2 separate regions of the Homo sapiens genome follow, and region 1 is linked to region 2. A link means that fine-mapping ties the variant in region 2 to the expression of a gene that starts in the linked region. Tissue or cell type: hypothalamus. Region 2 holds a variant in brackets; the other region holds the start of a gene. All regions are shown on one strand. Distances are from middle to middle.

Region 1 (2,600 bases), 120 kb before region 2:
GCTCTCCGCGCCCGGCGTCCGCCGAGTTGGGGGCCGCGGCGGAGAGCAGCAAAGTTTGCAAACAATACCGGGAAGCGAGGGAAGCCCCCGGAGCTCCCGGCGCAGCGGCCCGGCGCGAGCTCCAACTCACGGCCGCGGCAAACTTCGGCCTCTTCTTGGAGCGCCCAGGTGGCGCGTCTGGAGCGGGCTGGCGGCGCGGGCACACCGAGGCCGGCCCAGCTCGCGGCGCCCCCACAGCCCGGGCGGCTCCTCCCTCCCTGCGCCGGCCTCGGCCGGGACCAGCCGGCAGCTGTTTCGAGGTTTGCGTCCCGGGATGAGAAGACTCGCAAAAAGGCAAAGGGGGGCAGAAAAGCCGAGCGCTGACAGGCCCCGCCCCCGGGCCGCGCGCCCCGCCCCGCCGCTGCTTTGCATGAGAAAGCGCAGCGGCCCGGGGCAGCCTCCTCCCCGCCGCCCCGCCGCGGGCTCCCGGGCCCCGCGGGGGCCGATCCCCCCCGGCCTGCAGCCCAGCCTGCGGGGGGCGCAGCGCCTAGTCCCGCCCGCGTCGCCCGCCAGCCCCGGGACAGCCCGCCTGGCGCGCGGGGCTCTGCGCGCTGCGACCCTCCCCGGCAGTCCCGCCCGCCTCTCCTCGCCCTCTCTCTGCCTGGCCTCCAACTTTGCCTCTCGCTATCCTCTCCGCCGGCGCCCCCTTTCCCGGCGGTCCCCGGGATGGTCCCCGGCACCCCGAGGACGCCGAGGTTACGGGAAGTTCGGGGACTGGCGGGAGAAGGGGTTTGGGGGTGGTCCGCGGCGAGGGGCGCGGGGTGCATCTTCTCTTCCTTTTATGGTGAGTCCCGGGCGGAGGGCGCTTTCAAAGGGAGGTGGGATTTGCGTTTTATAGCCTGGGCCATAAAGTAGGCCCTTGCTTGTAAACCTGCCCGCATCTTCCTGAGGCTGGGGAGGTGCTACCAGCCCCGGGCTCCGGGCTCCGAGGAGGGATTTTCTTTGAAATTTCAAAGAGACGAGCTAAGGGGAGGGGGAGGGGCTCGAGAATCCGGATTTTAGGGCCGCTCATCCGAGGTCTCCTCTAAGAAGGCGGGAAGGGGGAGGGGCGGGAAGCGTCCCGGGACTTTGAACACCGCCTCCCACCCCGCGGGAAGTGCGGGCTTGGTTTGTACCGCGGTGACCCCCGCCCCCTCCGAAGCCGCAGAGCCGGGGCCTCGCGCCAGCAGGGCTGGAGATGCCTTCTTGGCGGCTGAGTTTATTTATTATAGGAAGTCATTCGCTCGTGGGGTATTTATGTGATTTGGCGAGTGATGTGCCCGGCCAGCGCCCTCCTTGGCTGCAGCCCCGCAGGAGGACCCGGAGTAGGGTGGGATGGAGTGGGTCGTGGGAGGAGCGCGTCAGCGCCTGCCCGGGGACCCCCAGCTCCCGCGAGGACACGGAGGCGCGCACGCCGCTCGGTTTTCCTGGAAAGTGGAGAAGGAGCGTCCTGGGCAGGTCCTCTGAGCTCATCCCCCCTCGGATTGGGGCGGGTCTGTGACGGGGTCACTTAGGACACGACGTCCCCCCGCCATTCCCTTCCCCCGCCCAGGGCGTTCGCGGTGGGCGCCCACCGCCAAGCCCCACTGTTCCCAAGGATGCGCCAGGTGCTTCCCGTAGCGTCCTGGGTTGACCCTTAAAAAAACAGCACCCCTAGGAGGTGGCCGGCCCTCTCCTCCCAGGGTCTCTCCGGGTCACGATCTTCCAAAGTTCGGAAACTCGCAGGATCGCGTGTGCAATCTCCCGCTACCTCCCGGGGGGCCGGGGAGAGGTCAGAGGAGCGAGTCCCGCGTCCACCGGCCTCGCTTGCCCCCTGCCCGTTTGAGGATAGTTCCAGGGAGCAGGGTGGAGTGTGCGGACATCTTTGGAGGCAGTGCTGGGGCTTCCCGCGTTGGCGGCGCTCCACCCGGCGTGGGGGGCGGCTGCACGGGCCCCCGCGGTGGGGACGCTGCGCACGGGGCAAGGTCTCCCTAGGAAGCGCCCGGGAAGGAGATGGGGCCCGCCAGGAACCCCCCTCACTGACCAGCTTTCTGCACGCCGTGCAGGAGGGGGCCACTTCCTCGGAGAGTATTGGCTTTTAATTAAAACAAGCCCTACAATTTTTACATCGGTAAGAAACTTGGGGAAATCTCACCTTTCCACTCATTCATTCATCCGTTCAACAGACATTTGAGCGCCCAGAATCCCAGAATTAATAGGCAGGTTCAGGCACCCACCCCTGGGTCGCTGTCCCTGGGTGTCCTGGGTCTCACTAGGAGGTGCTGGAGGAAGTCGGGGTGAGGGAGAAAGTGAAAAAGAAGGTAGAAACTCCGGGCAGTTAGAACACCACCTTCAACTGTGTTATTTCCCAAGTGAAAAGTTGCATGATTTTATTTTTGAAAGACTGCCATTTTTATTATAGTGTTTTTTTTTTTGTTGTTGTTGTTTTTTGTCTAGTGAGTAATTTTTCAGGACCTTTAAATTAAAATTAATTCAGCGGAAATCACTTGGCTTTTCTAGAATTTTCCTGGCAAAGGTCCTTCCTGGGCCCTATTTTCCTTCTTTTCCTTTTTGTGTCTCTCCCTCAGCAACTATTAGAAATA
Region 2 (2,600 bases):
TTGGCTGTTTCTGCTTCTTGTACCTCCTGAGTCAGGTGGCGGTGGGGGAGGGCAGACGCCACACACACCTGGGTCCACTGGCCGCACGGCTCCTGGAAATGCTAGTGTGACTTTCCTAAGGGTTCTTTCAAAGGACACTTTTAGACCTGCCTTTTGTCCCAAGGATTCTAGTTGCTTCATCTTTAGTACCACAGACTGGTGGCTAAACAACGAACATTTACTCTGCCAGGACAACCTCGCTGCCCTCGTGGTTCCCAGCACCCGCCCGGACCTCCACACCAGGCTACTGTTTCCCCAAACGAGTGAGTGTCCTACTCCCTTCCGGCAGCCCTGACCTTCTCCTGCCTCGGATTCTTTCATTCTCTTCTCGGCTCCTAAATTCAAGCTCCCCTTATAAAGCTCAGCCCAGATTCCCATGATAACGTGCTCTGCGATTATTTGCCGATTCCATCAACATTTTTTGAGTACCTGTTGTGTGCCTGACACCTACGGCACTCAGAGCTGGAAGTGGATCCAGCTGTGAGCAGAACACAGACCCTCGGGGATCCCCCAGCCTGCTGGTAGAGACGACCCCCATCCAGGGAGATGCGGGAGCACCGAGGAGAAGCCCCAACCCTGGGGTTCATGGATGGCTTCCTGGAAGAGGAAGCAAGGTGAAGTCAGAGGCTAAAAATGCACACATTTGCAGGTGTTGAGCAAGTAGTGTGGACGCGTGAGCGATGAGGCACAATAGAGCATGAAGGCGCGGGCGGTGGCAAAGGGAACTTCGCCATCTGGGGAGGCATCCTCTGCCCAGCTTTGATCACTCCCTGGGATGTGAATAGGAGTTTATCTTGCCAGATATATGATCTTCCAAGGTCACAGGATTTTGCGAATTTGTATCAGATTTCTCAGTTTTTAAATGTTGCCAACTTGTAACTTTTTAAAATAGTCAGTGGACCATACAAGACACAACTGTAGGCCAGGTGTGTTCTGCAGGCCC[T/G]TGTTGCAACATCTTGTCTAAGTGGAATTCAGCCAGGTGAGAAAACAGTAAACAGGCAGAGGACTGGCAGGTCCAAAGGCCCTGTGGGGGAGAGGGCCTCCCCTGTGATGTCCATGTGTACTTTCACCTATTTGGCAAATATTTATCCATCCCCACCAGATGTCAGCCACTGTTTGGGAGGTGTGTGTGCACACATACAAACACATATGCAGGCATGTGCGTATGTGTGCATTTGGAGCAATGTATGTGCTACACATTTGTATGTGTGTATATGTTTGCAGGTGTATTATGCATGTACACATGTGTGTACATGTATTCAGGGGTATATGTGTGTATATATGTGCATGTGTTTTTATGTATGCACGTATATAGTGCATGTGTGCATGTGTGTATATGTATGCAGGTGTACATATGCACACGCGTGCATGTGTGTATACGTGGGTGTATTGTGTGCATGTGTGTATATGTATGCAGCTATATGCGTGTGTGCATGTGTGTATGTAGTGTATGTATATGCACCATGCATATGTGCATGCCTGTGTAAGTCCATATATATGTGTGCACATGCATGCACGCGTGCATGTGTATGTACATGTGTTCATGTATGTGCGTGTAGGTGTGGGTAAATGTATGCGTGTGTGTGCATGTGTTCATGTATGTGCATGCAGGTATGGATAAATGTATGCTTATGTGTGTGCGTGTGTTCATGTATGTGCATGCAGGTATGGGTAAATGTATGCATATGTGTGTGTGTGTTCATGTATGTGCGTGTAGGTATGGATAAATGTATGCATGTGTGTGCGCACACATTCATGTATGTGCGTGTAGGTATGGGTAAATGTATGCATGTGTGTGCACGTGTGTTCATGTATGTGCGTGTAGGTATGGGTAAATGTATGCATATGTGTGCGTGTGTTCATGTATGTGCGTGTAGGTATGGATAAATGTATGCATGTGTGTGCACGTGTGTTCATGTATGTGCGTGTAGGTGTGGGTAAATGTATGCATGTGTGCATGTGTGTTCATGTATGTGCGTGTAGGTGTGGGTAAATGTATGCATGTGTGTGCGTGCATATGCCACATGCATGTTTGCACATGGGCTTGCATGAACATGTGTATGAGTGTGTGTATGCATGTGTGTATGCATTTGCACCAGTGTGTTTGTGTGTGGATGATATCCGCTCCTGGCAGGTCGTGTTTTCTGGGCCTCATTCGGCCCAGCGGGAGCTCCTCGGCTGAGGCCGTACTGGAGGGGGCTGGAATCCTCCCTGGGGAAGCGCGTGGCTCGGGGTGTTGGCCTGGAGTGAGCTCAGCAGGAATTTGGGTCAGAGGAGCTCCTTGGGGGTGGGGACAAAAGGATCCACACAAGCCCTTGAGGAGTGCGGTGGGGCTCGCGTGTCGGGGCTCGCGCGGGGGGCGTGGGGCACCTGGGGACATCTCTGAGGTGGGAGCCGCGGGAGCGCCCAGGCGCTGTTTCCAGCCAGTGCAGCCTCCCCGCGCGGGTCCCGGCTTCGAGAGACGCGCGTACGCCGCCCCCTAGTGGAGACAGCGGGCCCTGCAAGCTGCCGCGGAGATGCTCTCCCGGTGTCTGATGGGAGAATCCTGTGCCCGCAGCCCT

The links. PIP is the estimated chance that this variant, and not a neighbour inherited with it, causes the effect. A credible set is the group of variants that fine-mapping cannot tell apart.
Region 1: it holds the start of FZD10-AS1, and the variant in region 2 is the best candidate, but not a certain one, in a credible set for the expression of FZD10-AS1 in hypothalamus (GTEx, PIP 0.60).

Annotation. Positions count from the first base shown.
Region 1 is chr12:130,160,185-130,162,784 of GRCh38, reverse strand. It overlaps FZD10-AS1 (FZD10 antisense RNA 1), which reads left to right and starts at 1,107. Exons shown (of 4, transcript NR_033834.1): 1 at 1,107-2,128. It overlaps FZD10 (frizzled class receptor 10), which reads right to left and starts at 321. Exons shown (of 1, transcript NM_007197.4): 1 at 1-321. RefSeq lists enhancers at 708-1,274, 1,275-1,841.
Region 2 is chr12:130,042,337-130,044,936 of GRCh38, reverse strand. It overlaps LINC02418 (long intergenic non-protein coding RNA 2418), which reads left to right and starts at 2,595. Exons shown (of 3, transcript NR_024457.2): 1 at 2,595-2,600. The variant T/G (reference allele first, on the strand shown) is at 983.